4 linked regions of the Homo sapiens genome follow. The protein of the gene in region 1 purifies or fractionates together with the protein of each later gene. This does not show direct contact. Each region holds a gene or a part of one and is shown in the gene's direction. Other genes may lie near its edges.

The links. Proteins that work in one complex are often made in the same cells at the same time.
Region 2: the proteins of SLC9A6 (region 1) and POMGNT2 purify together in Homo sapiens (affinity purification with mass spectrometry; 3 studies listed by BioGRID and IntAct, with this or other methods). This does not show direct contact.
Region 3: the proteins of SLC9A6 (region 1) and ALDH3B1 purify together in Homo sapiens (affinity purification with mass spectrometry; 2 studies listed by BioGRID and IntAct, with this or other methods). This does not show direct contact.
Region 4: the proteins of SLC9A6 (region 1) and SLC19A2 purify together in Homo sapiens (affinity purification with mass spectrometry; 2 studies listed by BioGRID and IntAct, with this or other methods). This does not show direct contact.

Annotation. Positions count from the first base shown.
Region 1 is NC_000023.11:135,983,981-135,988,234, forward strand, and holds the start of SLC9A6 (sodium/hydrogen exchanger 6), read left to right. Parts: upstream 1-1,454; 5' UTR 1,455-1,497; exon of another isoform or gene 1,498-1,522; coding exon of another isoform or gene 1,523-1,678; coding exon 1,679-1,847; intron 1,848-4,254. UniProt on the Homo sapiens protein: Endosomal Na(+), K(+)/H(+) antiporter. Mediates the electroneutral exchange of endosomal luminal H(+) for a cytosolic Na(+) or K(+).
Region 2 is NC_000003.12:43,096,080-43,099,579, reverse strand, and holds part of POMGNT2 (protein O-linked-mannose beta-1,4-N-acetylglucosaminyltransferase 2), read left to right. Parts: intron 1-3,500. UniProt on the Homo sapiens protein: O-linked mannose beta-1,4-N-acetylglucosaminyltransferase that transfers UDP-N-acetyl-D-glucosamine to the 4-position of the mannose to generate N-acetyl-D-glucosamine-beta-1,4-O-D-mannosylprotein.
Region 3 is NC_000011.10:68,013,327-68,016,826, forward strand, and holds part of ALDH3B1 (aldehyde dehydrogenase family 3 member B1), read left to right. Parts: intron 1-1,970; 5' UTR 1,971-1,971; coding exon 1,972-2,133; intron 2,134-3,500. UniProt on the Homo sapiens protein: Oxidizes medium and long chain saturated and unsaturated fatty aldehydes generated in the plasma membrane into non-toxic fatty acids. May have a protective role against the cytotoxicity induced by lipid peroxidation.
Region 4 is NC_000001.11:169,468,945-169,472,444, reverse strand, and holds part of SLC19A2 (thiamine transporter 1), read left to right. Parts: intron 1-2,258; coding exon 2,259-2,481; intron 2,482-3,500. UniProt on the Homo sapiens protein: High-affinity transporter for the intake of thiamine. Mediates H(+)-dependent pyridoxine transport.

The DNA of each region.
Region 1 (4,254 bases):
AGAGAATGGGCACACAGTCACTGGCTCTGATTTGGGACAGTTCCTGACCTGACAGGGACAGAAAGTGGAATTGGACATCGTTTGAGTGCTTTTTTTGTTTAGCTCATCATCCTGAGAGCTTAGAGAGCTGGTTAGTGAGGGTGAATACACACAGGGGCAGCTTGGAGTTGCCTGAGTATTACTTGTTTTAGCAAGGAGGTTATATGGCCATGAGATGGAAAGAACCATTTGAGAATCATGAGTTCCAGGCAGAATGATAGGAATTGAACTGACAGTGGTACCACTGATGGTATGAAGAATTTGAGAAGGAATTTGTACTTGCAGGGGGAACTCATTTCAAATGAGCTCATTTCAAAATATTTTTAGTTTTGAGGGTGGTAGGAGCCTCAACAGGGTATGCTCAGAATCCAACAGGTAGAGGCCTGAAGTTGGGGCAGCAGGCCAGGGCTTGAGACTTGTAGATCATTCATGTTGAAATCAAAGTCTTGAGAAAACAAAGAGCCCACACAAACTAAGGAGCGATCGGAGAAATACAGAAAAAATAGGAAGTCACTGTTCTCAAAAGACAAAGCTCCAGTATGGAGGTGAGAACTGTGAAAATTCTGGTGAGAGAGGTTGGACAGGCTGAGAACAGAAAAAAAATACTGTCCTGAGGAATACTAAAGAGGAGAGATGAGAGATAGGGGTCAAGGGTGACTTCGGAGCTGGGGACATTTGCTTTAAAACAGCAGTAAAAAGGAGCAAGAGGAGAAGGAGAAATCCACCACACCACCCAAGATTTTTTCTTCGGGAGGGAAGTGTTTACGAGCATTGGGAAATCTAAGCACAAACCGATCCAATCTTTGCTGTAAGGTTGATGAGTTTCTGTGTACAGATTCCTAGCGTGAGAGATGACTTATATCAGATGTTTACATGTAAAGAAAACCGACTACACAGACACACACATAATCCATACCTTTGAGTCGATTGTTTTATGAACTGCTACAGTGCTCTGTGTGTGTGTGGTGTTTTTTTGTGTTTTTTTTTTTTTCTTTCCCGATGAGGACAATACAAGGAGAATCCGATTTAAATTTAAATTACAGAGATGGAGATTGAGGCTCCTCCCAAGGGGACAACTTATCCTGTTAAGAGACACTGGGGGACGATATTGAGATGGGTTATGAAAGATCAATTCCTATGAAAGATCAATTCCCCTGAGAGCTCTGAGAATAGGATCAAAGTAGAAAGCGCAGTCTGCCTCTGCTTGGTTACACTGAGCCGATGTTTCTTTAGCCAAAGGCAGTGGGCTAGTTTAGACGGCCTTTCATTCCCGGCAGCGCCTGTGGGTGCGTGTGACCTGGGACAGAGGGGCAAAGGAACCTGGCAGAGCGAGCTTGGGATGCCGCGGCCCCTTTAAGAGCGGCGGCGGCGGCGCGCGCTCCGACGGCTACCCCCGGGCCCCGCCCCTTTCCCGTGAGCCCTCGGGGAGTGGTCCGACCGCGGGCGGCCGCCGGTGAGGTAGGGGCGGGAGGCGGGGGGAGACATGGCTCGGCGCGGCTGGCGGCGGGCACCCCTCCGCCGTGGCGTCGGCAGCAGTCCCCGAGCCCGCAGGCTCATGCGGCCCCTTTGGTTGCTCCTCGCAGTGGGCGTCTTTGACTGGGCAGGGGCTTCGGACGGCGGCGGCGGAGAGGCTAGAGCCATGGACGAGGAGATCGTGTCCGAGAAGCAAGCCGAGGAGAGCCACCGGCAGGACAGCGCCAACCTGCTCATCTTCATCCTGCTGCTCACCCTCACCATTCTCACAATCTGGCTCTTCAAGCACCGCCGGGCCCGCTTCCTGCACGAAACCGGCCTGGCTATGATTTATGGCAAGTTCCTCAACCCTTGTCAGCCCCTTGGCGCTGCCCCTTTCTCTGCCCGCCGGCTGCTTCGCCTCCTCTGCTGGCCCTGCTCGGCCTACGTTCGGCTCCCCTTCTAATTCCTTCCATTTTCTGCCTCGCCTTCCCCCTACCCCGCGTTTCTCTGCCTCACCCCCTTTCCTCTTCAGCCTCGCGCCCCATTTTATCTGCCTCTCCACACCTTTTTCGCTTCCGACCCCACCCCCTTTTTCCTCCGCACCCCCAGCCCCCCACCCTTTCCCTGCCTACCAAGCTCGGGACCCGGGGCTGAGGATGGAAAACGAGTGGGCGCGGTGTCTGGAATTGGGCTGGGGGCTGGGGGAGGGGAGACACCATTGCGATCCATTTCTCTGGGGTGTCAGTTTGTTTAAGGTTCATTGAAACTGCAGTAGTATCTCTACTGCCCAGAATCTGGCGTTCTTTTGGAGCCAGAGTCGACCTTTACTCAACACCTAGCTCCTGCTACGCCCTGTCCTTTCGAGGTTGCAAAGGAAAATCTTATTCTTGTGGAGTCCGAAAAAAAAAACCCGAACGTGAAATAGGCTACAGAAGGCTTAGGGCATTTTTAATGACATCCCATTTATTGTACTATGCCTCTAATATCTGATATGGATACCTGTGGTTGACCCTTCCAATTCAGGCATACAAAAGTGAGGACGAGGAAGAGTTAAGGTCCTTCCAGAAGTATAGTGTACTATACGATGATCAGGACAGTTCAGACAAACAGTAATTACAAACACCATGCATATGCAGTATGGGTGACTTGCTGTTGGCATGAGGTTATTGACCGATTGTAGAATAAATGGCTTCGATTCTTGTGTCTCAGTCTGCTTTCTGAGGTTTATTATTATTATTATTATTATTATTTTGGTGACAAGGCGAGAAGGGGTAAATCAAAGTGTGGGCTCAGAGGCATTTTGAGCTGTGCTGGGGCCTCAAGAGGAGAAAAGATACATATTGCCGACTGTATTAATCTGTGCGGGTATTGCTAAAGAGATGAGGGCGGACAAACAATTCTTTCTGTGCAGTACATGTGTGAAGATTATCTTCATTTGGAGCAGTTAAACCGATGAGCTTGTTGAGGTTTGTCTCTCAGACTTGCAGATAGGTAGATGAAGCTTTGGCACAAAAGACATTGCTCCATGCAAACCCCCGCCCCCTAGTAAATCCAGACTTCTGTAATGTGCATCTCTCAAGGATAGCAAGGAAAGGTAGTTGTGTGCCTCAGGAAGATGCATGAACTCAGGCTTATTTTTCATTTTTAAGAGAATACAGTTCTGAGCCTGCGTGTAAAATATCTCTGCTCACTAAGATTCCTAGTTTTTAGACATATTAGATGGTTTTTATATTTAATATGTTTTGCATTTCATTTGCAGTGCACCTTAAGCCAAATTGGCCAGATAAGCTATATATTTCTATATAATTTTCTGCATAACAGTGTGTGATTTATTTACTATCCTCAACAAACATTTGTTGATAAACCTTCTATGTATTATGCTCAGAAAATACAAAGAGGTATAAGATCTTTGCCTTCAAGTCACTTATAGGCAGGTCATATAAAGAAAATAATGGCATCTTAAATTTGGTTAAATGCCAAATGAGTATTATAAAGTAATGAACTGATCAGAGATACTTCTTTTATAGAGAGAGATAGTATGATGTGGTAATTAAAGGTACAAGGCTTTAGACCAGAGGTCAGCAATTTTTTTTTTTTTCTGTAAAGGGCCAGGTAGTAATGATTGTTGATCTTGTGGATACGTAGATCTCTGTCGCTGTTGCATTTTTTTTCTTTGATTTTTTTTTCTTTTTATAAAGTTTTACAACATAAAAACTATTCTTAGCTCTCGGGCCATACAAAAACAGACCAAGGGCTGTAGTTTGCCAACCCCTGCTTTAGAATCAGACCTAGATTCCCGTCACACTCTGCCCATAGGTATGTGTGATCTTAGACAAGTCCCTTACTCTCTTTTACCATCATCTATATGTTAGGGATGATGATAGTAGGATTACTGTGAGGAAGAAATGTTTTTAGACTAGTAACTGACCCTTAAGTAAATGCCCAAGAAATGATAGCTGTGCTATTATTATTATTATTGCTGTTACAACTGCATTTTCTCAGATTAGGCCCAGAACAACTCTTTTAATTGGTCAGTCTCATAAGTCAAGGGACAAATACAGTCTTTTTAAGAGAATCAAATAGGGGCTTTGAATTGCCCTGGAAATATTTTCTCTTTGGTAGCTGGTATCATTAACCTCATCTAACTCTAGGACTGAAGTAGAAAAGGATTACCGATTGCATTTTGTGAGGTTTCTAAGTTAATAAAAAGTGATAGAGCACCTTGGTGTTAGTATTTTTTGAAGGAAAAACAAGGGTATC
Region 2 (3,500 bases), on another chromosome or scaffold:
GACCTTTACCTGTCTGGGTATGCAGTGCCCACTGAACTGCACATGGCTTTGGGCCTGGCCATCACTGCCCATGGCTTGGAGGCCTCATGGTTTGCTGGACATTTGTGAGAACTAGACAGTGATGCTTGCTGCAGACAGATTTGTAGCAGTCATGAGTAATTGGGACATGTAGACACATAACAGAGATGCTCATCTTATCCTCCATCACCACCAAAACACCTCCAAAAACTTGCTCAAAACTCACCCACCCTCCAGCCAGCTTCCCTGGATGATCTCTTGTTGTGCACACTTCCTCGTGTTTCTTTGTGAATGTTTTATGCTTCCTATACTGGGTGTTTTTGGCTCTCTTGATCAGTTCAACCCTCTCAAATTGGGCCTGAGGGTCCATCTGGATTTGTGTACACACTGGGGTCTGAGCATTCCCTGTAAGAATTGTTTTCATTTGATTTTGTAGTTCCACCTAGAAAACCTGGTGTAGGCGTGTTCTCCATTACCTTTGTGAGCCACACAACAGAGGTTCCCACCGTTCTGTTCCCTGTTTCATCCCCGTTTATGACCACACTGGTACACAGTGATGCCAGAGAGGACCAATACAGGCACATGTCACTTCCAGGTGACCCATTTGTGCTAAGCAAAAGCCAGATGACACGGCAGGCTGTGTGGCAAGCAAAGGTTTCTGCGTTATTTGGAGGCTGAAAACCGGTGAGAGGGTTGCATATGAGCTGGTGGAAGGCCGAACGTCCTGCCCCACACTCAAGCCTTGGTTTATCCTCAGCAAAGACTGACATCACCCTTCTCACCAAAGTAGTACAGACTTGAATTCTGTTGGAGTTTTTCCTGCTTTGAAGGGGTTCCTTTTCTATTGATAAGGCAATATAGTCACAGTCATCAGCTATTGATGGTGGATTAATGTCTCCAGCTTTGACTTTGCTTTGCTCTTTATTCTAAAGCAAGAAGATACTACCCATGTCAAAGTTTTAATCTAAGAAAGTGAGCCCTTAACTAAATGTTAAATATGCCTTGATAATTAAATGTGTTAAGTTTTACAAGAACCACTCAGACTGCCAAGATTTTGCCAAAGGATAAATACCTTGGTCAGAAAACCTGATCTATAAATGCCGAATTTATCAATAGCATTAGGTTAATATTTAATTTAGGAGCAAATGTAAGCATTATGTTATTAATACCAGTTCCATATACTACTTCAGATAACCAAAAAAAAAGGAGGGGGAAAGAGATCATTCTGAGGATAAGCTTGAGTTAGTGAAACATGTTTACTCCTTACTAATTTACAACATGTAAGACAACAAATCAATACAGGACTGAAAGCTTCCACAATCTAGCACTAGTACTTCAGGCTGCATTTAGGACAAAAACACTTTTCAGTGACAAAATAAGATTTCTATAATTTTCAATTGGAAGTGTGAACAATCCTTAAAAGTCAAATTGCTGTGAAAGTAAAATATAAAACCTTCTGCACCGTTGCTGACCCCCTCCTGGCCTGGGCCCTGCCTGATCTTCTGCAGCCTGGGTCTGGCAGGTGCTGGCTGTCTGGTCCCTCCACCTCTGTAACCCTTCTTGTGGAGGAGTGACCGGTGAGCTGCTGGTTCTGGCAGTCACAAAACTGGGAACCCGGGCACAGGCCATGGTGAGGCCAGCAGGACAGGGGATTTGCTTTAGACCAGAGCTTGCAAATGAGCATCCGTTTTTAACTGGCAACCATGAGGCCAGCAGCCCCAGGCCTTGGTGCACGTTGTCTTCACTCAATTTGAATAATTGCCAGAAGTTACAAATGAGGACATTTCACATTTTAAATAGATTTTTGCTTCTCTGGGAAAATCAGAAGAGTATTGCTATGGACTGAATCATGTTCCCCCCATTTATATGTTGAAGATCTAACCCCCCTGTGATTGTGTTTAGAGATAGATCATCCTAATAATGAAGCTTAAATGAGGTCATAAGGGTGGGGCCCTAATCTGATAGGACTGGTGTCCTTATAAGAAGAGGAAAAGAGATCAGAGTGTTTCTCTCTCTCCCCACCTCCCTCTCCCGGCTTCCTTTCTCCCTCCCTTTCCCCCTTGCTCACCTGCCCCTCTCCTCCCTCCCCACCACACAGAGAAGAGGCCATCTACAAGCCAGGAAGAGAAGCCTCACCAGAAACCAACCCTGACAGATCTGTGAGAAAATTCTGTCATTTAAGGCACTCAGTCTGGTATTCTGTTATGGGAGCCCAAGCAGACTGATACAGATAGGTACCACCAGGCTGCTTTCCCGCCATTCTCTCATCAGCTGGCATTAGGTGTTCTGTCTCCAGGTCACACAGCCCACCCTCAGCTTTACTTTCTCCATTGGCTCCGGCCCTAGCAGGCATGTGAGTGTGCACCTCCTACTCTGGGCCCAGAATTCCTGGAGCTTTTACTCCTTATCAAACCTTAAAGCCCTTATGGGCTTTTCTGTGCCCGTGTCTGGGGCTGGCCAGGGCCCCCAGAAGTACAGCCTGCACCCAGCACCAATGACCACCCTCACGTGGTGAGCTCCCCAAGGCAAGTGGCCCCACCCCACCTGCCCAGCTGTTACTGGGGTCTGCAGTTGCAACAGCATTTTTGACATTATCCTCTGATGCTCGGAACAGCTGGGATCCTAGAAAGGAGGATTCACTAAGTCTGGGGATCTGATAACATTTAACTGCTCTTGGGAGCTTAGTAAAGTGGTTTGGGGGAGTGAATTGGTAGCTTCCTCCTGTCTGCCTCAGTTTCTAAAGGGATTTTCTAGGCATGTTTTTAATCTCTTGTTGATTTCTTTTTTCTCTTTCTTTTGAAAAAATTTTTGTTTTATCATGCTTTGTCCTGGCTGAGCCACTAAGCCCTTTGTTCCCCACTCCAGTTGGTCTCTAAATTTGGTGCCCAATATAGAGGAGGCAGAGGCAGATAAACATGGTGGTGTTGAAGTACCCTGGTCTGTGTGGCCCTGGAATGCCAAGAAGGTGAGGTCCAAATGGTGCCTGGGCTATTAACATAAGACAGTGCTTAGAATCCATGTTCAGATCCTGCCTCCATTCTGTACATGCTGAGGGACTTGGACACATTTACTTAGCTTCTCCCAGCCTCTGTGTCCCAATCTATAAAATGGAGTAATAGAAATAGTGTTAGCCTCTTAATGTTGGTTTGAAGATTGAATGAGAAAATATACCTACAGTGTTCAGTATACTGCCTGGAACATAAAGTGTTAGAGGCTGGTGATTTTGAGTGTGTTTTTCAAGGTAAGAGTGGGTTCATATTTAATAGTTGTTGGTAATCTGGGAATCAGTTTCAGGTGCCGATTGGATCCTTGGTAGCAGGATGGGATGGGAGGTACAGCACGGGAATCAGCTGCTGGTCCCAGAGCAGTGGAGGGGCCAAAACTCCGCTTAGGGCACGAGTAAGAGGAGTGATAGGAAGAGGCAGCTTTTCCTAGTTTGATTACCTCCGCTTTTCTAAAGGAAAGCAAACAAATAAGGATCA
Region 3 (3,500 bases), on another chromosome or scaffold:
CTGCAGAACTCCATCCCCCACAGAGCTCCCGGCCCACAGTCCACCATTCACGTTACGTGCCTTGCATTTTTGTGGTTTCTGCAGAGATTCTTACAAAGGGTGAGAGAGGCACAGGCGTGGTTTGCCTTTGACCACTGGCAGAAGTCTGAAGGTGAGAGTAGAATGGAGAAGGACCCAGGAGAGTGCGGAGTTGAGGGAGATAAATATTTGCAGGCTACTTAGCAAAACACCCAGAGCTGACCTTTGTCGAGTACTTTCTGTGGGCACAACAGCAAATGTTTTATGCAGCGTGATGTCATTTAATCCTCACAATGACACCAGGTGCCATTAGCATCCCCATTTCACAGATGAGGAAACCGAGGCAGAGAAGGTGAGTGATTTGCCCAAGGTCCCACAACCAGTAAGAGGCAGAGCCCGGAGACAGGCCTGATGGTGGCTCGAGAGGCTCGTTCTTGGCTCCTGGGTCTCAGTCCTGCTCCCGTGACGAGCCATCCCCTATGGGGACCATGGTGCCTGTCCTGTGTGCGGGCCACTGCCCAGCTTCTCCCAATCAGAGCAGGAAGATGGTGGGTTCAGCCTGGCCCCACAATCACTCCAGCTGAGGGCTGGCCTGGGGCTCCTGACCAGGCTCTCAGTAGCACACTGGTCCAGCAGGGCCATCCTGCAGACCGGAGCAGGTCCCGCCCTCAAGGTGGCCACTTAACAATCACCCACAGCCTTGCGCTCACCGATGCTGGGCCCTGGGCTCAGAACCGACTGTGTGGTCTCATCATTAGCTGGCAGGTGCCATCATTACACCGGTAACATGAGAGGCTTCAAGCACTAGGTCTCAAATAAGTAGGCACAGAGGGGCCTGCCTCCCAGTCTAATGAGGGGGAAATAAGGGAGATGTGGACAGGGTTGGGAGGTGGGTAGAGTGTAACCAGACATTTATCACATGGCACAACTCAGAACGCTGGGGAGCAGAGTCAAGGGGCCACTGTGACAGTGGATGAGGGCATAATCTGGGTGGGCTGCCTGGAGGAAGCATCAGCCAAGCTGAGATCTGGAGGAAAGGGACTCGGAGAGGGAAGGAGGAAAGGGTCACCACGGGTCCTTGGCACCAGGCCGAGGAACGAGTGCGTCAGAGTGCTCCTCCGATGAACTTCAAGTAAACAGGCAGGGCTCGGGGGAATGTCTAGGCCCCTACCCTGCCTGCCAGCTCTGGCTGGCACCAGCACGGAGGCAGGAACGCCCTCTCCCCCGCCCTGATCCTCTCCCCCACAGCTGTTTCTGCCTCCCAGCACCACAGCCCCGGCAGGGTGGGCAGCAGGGCCTCCAGGAGGCCCGAGGTGTTCTCCCCCTCTTCCTGAGGAAGCTGAGGCACAGGGAGAAGAGGCTATTGCCCACTGGCCTGGCCTCCCTGGGCAGTGCCCCCAGGCTGGGGACAGAGGAAGACGGAGAATTCTGTGTCTGGAGTGCTCCAAGGTGGTGGCCATGGTGGCAGTGAGTCACCCCCTCTACTCATCAAGCTCCTGCTTACACCATTCAGACTGGCAGGGGTGAGGCTGCCCCGCCTCCAGGAGGGGCATCAGGGCAGGGCAGAGGCCATGGCTTGGGGTTAATTTCTGTGCGGCAGGAAGAAGCATGGCGCTCTGCCTGCCTGCTCACCCTCGGGGGCTGTGGTGGAGCAGCTGTCCCCAAGCCCACACCCAGTCCTGCAGCCGCCTCCAGGTCCATGGCAGAGGGGAGTGGTGCGAGGGTCTTCATGTGTGTCTGGGAGTGCTCACTGTTGGGTGAAAGGGGTTGCAGGCAGCCTCAGTCCCTGTGGGGTCATCTGAGTGGGTCCCTGTGTGTGTATAAGGTAGAGGTGTCTGCAAGCCCCTGTGGGTGCAGGCAGGTCAGGGGTGCCCAGACCCTGGGGCGGCTGGGTGGTGCCCATGAAGGAGGGGCAGCCCTGGCCACCCAGTTCATGCCACCCCATCTGGCAGGATGGACCCCCTTGGGGACACGCTGCGGCGACTGCGGGAGGCCTTCCACGCGGGGCGCACGCGGCCAGCTGAGTTCCGGGCTGCGCAGCTCCAAGGCCTGGGCCGCTTCCTGCAAGAAAACAAGCAGCTTCTGCACGACGCACTGGCCCAGGACCTGCACAAGGTGGGCTGGGGTTGGGGGTATGAGAGGGTGCACTGGGGCAGGGGGGCATGGAGGGCAGCTGGGACAGCAGGGGATGAAGACACCTGCGCCCTCCATGAAGCGGGGCTAAAAGCAGCTCCTCCCCTAGGCCAGAGCCACCCTTGCACATTCATCCAGTCACTTATTTCTGTATTCATGCAGCAACTATTTGCTGAGCACCTACTATGTGCCAGGTACTGTTCTAGGCTCTGGGGATATAGCAGAGAATAAAACACAGTTCCCATGCCTACGAAGATGACCTTCTATCGGAGACAATAAAACAGCAAATAAATAATTGCACAGCAAGGCCGGGCATGGTGGCTCACACCTGTAGTCCCAGCACTTTGGGAGGCCGAGGTGGGCGGATCGCTTGAGGCCAGGAGTTCAAGACCATCCTGGCCAACATGGCGAAACCCCGTCTCTACTAACAATACAAAAATTAGCTGGATGTGGTGGTGGGCACCTGTAATCCCAGCTACTCAGGAGGCTGAGGCATGAGAATCGCTTGAACCTGGGAGGTGGAGGTTGCAGTGAGCCAAGGTCACACCACTGCACTCCAGCTTGGGCAACACAGTGAGACTCCATCTCAAAAATAATAATAAAGATAATAATTACACAGCATATTGGGTTGAAATATGTGCCCTGGAGACACACCCAGGGTGAAGGGGAGAGAGGGGGCCAGGATCAGGGTGCTGTTGTATATGTGGGGGTCAGGGAAGGTTTCTCTGAGAAGGGGGCTTTAGAGCAGAGACGTGAAGATGGAGGGGAGGCTCCCCATGGATGCTGGGGAGATGGCAGCGGGCACAGCACGTGCAAAGGCCCTGAGGCAGGAGGTGCTGGGTGTTTCTGCTTGAGGAGCAGCAAGGAGGCCAGCATAGCTGTCGGGGGTGGGAGAGGAAGAAACAGCAAAGATGAGGTCTGGGGTATGGGCCACACTATGTAGGGCCTCGGAGGCCGTGAGGCCTTGGCCTTCTCTCTGGGTACAGCAGGCATCATGGCCTCTGTCTAGACCCTGAAGGCTTGGGGCCTCAGCCCCTCCCAATCCCAGTGGCAGCCAAGGCAGAACCCCAAGAAACACACTTCCCCCAACCCCTCACCCATCAGGGCCCATGCACCTGCCTGCCCCTGCCTCAGGACACCTGCCCCTGCCTCAGGACACCACCTGCCCCTGCCTCAGCACATCTGCCCCAGGGGCTGCCCCCGGCTCCTATTCTCTGGACAAAATATCTCCTCCCTTTGCCTTGAAGGCTGTAGTGTTCAGACCTTCCCCCAGCCCATTGGGCTCCCTGGGGACTGACTCCCCCGCCACCACTGAGCTTCTGCCACCGGCCGCCTGCCGGCCTTCATGA
Region 4 (3,500 bases), on another chromosome or scaffold:
TCTTATCAGTTTATGGTAGGATTTCTAATAGAAACTTGTGAATCCTTTTAATAGTTCCATTCTTCCAGGAATATACTTTCTTTTCTTATAATCCTTCCAGCATCCTTGAAAGTTTTAGATATCCCAGTTGTTTTCCAAGTTATATTGGTTAAGCAACTGAAGCTAAATAGTAAAATTCTGATGTAGTTCAATAAAACTGGTGGACCTTGAATAAAGACTTATGAAAATGTGCTTGGTACCATTCACTCACTCTTAGCAAATTCACATTATATATGATTAACAATTGTCTTGTGATTTGTTTAAATTCACAAGGTTTGCTCTCATACACAGTGCCAAGAAATCAATCTTGTAACAGCAGTATGTTGTACTTCTAGGTGGTTATCTTATGCAAATTCATCAAGTAGAATTTTCAAGTGTCGGTACTTCTTTCTCTGAGTTATTTTGATTAACCTCAGTACTCCTCCCTGAATTTTGGAAAGGGGCTGTAGTAATGGTACTTGAAGGATATCCCCCTCTGGGCTAAACAGCACAAAGAAGGAAGCACCACACTGGGGTTGCTTTGGGATGGTATGAGAAGGTAAAACAACGATGAAACTCGGATTCTCAGTCCAGTGAGGTTTTCTAGCCTCTGAGGGAGAAAATGGCCTTTATTTAACTAATGTTGATGGTCACTGTTACTGTATATAAGAGGAGAAAATATCTATTAATTTTATAAAAATGATATATATGGTGTGTGTGTATATATACACACACACACACACACACACACGTTTGTTTTTTGAGACAGAGTCTGTCTCTGTCGCCCAGGCTGGAGTGCAGTGGCGTGATCACGGATCACTGCAGCCTTGATCTTCTAGGTTCAAGTGATCCTCCCACCTCAGTCTCCTGAGTAGCAGGGACTACATGTGTACACCACCACACCCAGCTAATTAAATTGTGTGTGTGTGTGTGTGTGTGTGTGTGTGTGTGTGTGTGTGTGTGGAGACGGGATCTTACTATGTTGCCCAGCTTGATCTTGAACTTCTGGGTTCAAGCATTTCTCCTGCCACGGCCTCCTGAAGTGTGATGATTCCAGGTGTGAGCCACTGTGCCTGGCATCTACTTATTTTTTTAAATTAAATGTTACAGAAAGCTATATAAAAAATAAAAAATCACCTGAACTACTACCACCCAAAGATTAGTGAACTTCTTTTCAAACATCTCTTTTCCTATATACATATGTACGTATACATTTTATAGTAAATGAAATTGTGATCTACATGTAGTCTTGTAACTTGCTGTTATTTTACTCAGTGGTATATTGTACTCATCTTTCCATGGCTCTCATTTTGCCTTTCCATGTTAGCCACAAAAGTAAAATTTTCTGTGGGTTTTTTTTTTTTTTGGTAGAGATAGGATCTCACTTTCTTGCCCAGGCTGGTCTTGAACTCCTGGGCTCAAGCAATCCTTCTGTCTTGGCCTCCCAAAGTGCTGAGATTATAGACATGAGTCACTACACCCGGCCTTCCCATGTTCTGAGCAAGGCCCAGGGATTACAGTAACCTTTGGTAGATTAGTCCTTTCATACAGTTGAAATCAGAGATATCTCACAGAGTGTCTGACATCTCATATTGACTTCTTGGGATAGTGCGTAGCTCAGTAATGTCTTGCTTCACTCAATTATAAGCCCAGTAGCTTTATTTATTACTTTATTATAATACTATTTCTCATTGTTTAAATATTAAGTAATATAAAAAGTTTAAGGAAGAAAATTTAAATCACTAAGAACCCACCACCTAGAGAGAACTGCTAATATTTTGGTCTACTTCTTTCCAATATTTCTATCTTAACTGTTGGATCAGTCTGTCAATTATAACGATAGGAGGCCTTAACTGAATAGTGATTTATTAGGGTTGCTAGTCTGTTGCTTATTATTATTCTTGTTATGTTGTTTGCCAGTTTATGGGAGATGTAGATTACAGACTCCCATTGGCTGAAGCCTGCGGTCTCTTTTCATCATCTTCATTTTGTAAACAGTACATCTTTTGCTGGGTTGATTACATACAGCTGTGTTAATGCTATAGTGCATTTAAAGCAAAAATCCTATGAGAACATATTTTTCGCCAGAGGGGATAAATGTATTTGTTAATAAGTTTATGAAGTAAGCAGTTAGTTTTCACAAGGAAAAAAGTCTGTTAGGTAAGTAATTGGGCCTGTAAATTGCTTTCTATATAATTGCCTTCATCAGAGTTTGAGCATTGTTCCCTTTTGCTATGTAGGAACCCAAGCCAGACCGTCTCCTTGTATTGAAAGTACTATGGAATGATTTCCTGATGTGCTACTCCTCTCGCCCTCTTCTCTGCTGGTCTGTGTGGTGGGCCCTCTCTACCTGTGGCTATTTTCAAGTTGTGAACTACACACAGGGCCTGTGGGAGAAAGTGATGCCTTCTCGCTATGCTGCTATCTATAATGGTGGCGTGGAGGCCGTTTCAACCTTACTGGGTAAGCAATGCAGGATAATAGAGGGTCGTGGTGGGGGAGGGATTCCTCTGGTAGTTAAGCCAGCCATAATCAGATTTATTCACCCCTCCCAAATTTGAAATAGCCTCAAAAAATGATTATTTTGAGCTAGATTTTACAATTTAGGAGGACAACTTAGAAGTACTCAAGTGGAGCAGGACTATGACTAACAAACTGGAATTTTTTTATAAGCTTTGAGTAAACCTAATATAATAATTTTCAAGATTGTTTATCCAAGTTTCCATTATCTCTGTATTTACTGGGTAGTTTTGTCACTTGATGTGAAATTTTGAATGGCAATATATAATAGTTTATAACAATAGTATCTAATATTTGTTGAATGTTAATATGTGCTAGGTACTGTTCTATGGACATTATATACATTAACTCAATCCTCACAAAATTCCTGAGATAGGTAGAATTTATCCCCATTTTGCAATGGAAACTTGGGACTGGTAGGTTAATAACTTGCTCAAGGTCATATGGATGGTAAGTAGTAAAGTCAAGACTTGAACTCAGGCAGGATGGCTTCAGAGCCTGTGTATTTGACCATCTTACTCTATTGTTCATTTCTAATTTGTTGACCTACCTCCTGAGGTTGTTGGATGGTGTTATATGATTTCTGTAAACACTTATTATCTGTCTTGGCCCTCAGAAAACACTTCATAGATTTTAGCTATCCTTATCATCATCACTGTTTTACCAAAAGGCAGAGAAGCCCTTTTGCCATGTTCTAGACTGCTCCTTGGTTTGAAGGAGAGATGACTCATCCTGCCATGATGCCAAATTAGAAGCTATGGTTCTTTTTGACTCTTGCCTCTGCTTCAGCTGCAGCATTTTTTTTCCTTAGCAATGTCCCTGTGTCTTTGTCCTGCATTTTCATCTCATTGCCACCTCTCCTAATTCAGTCTGTCATCTCAGTGGCTCCATTTTATTGATTCCATCAAGTTCAGAAATTTCTGTGTGAGTTTCAAGGCCCTCCATAATCTTGAGCTATTCTG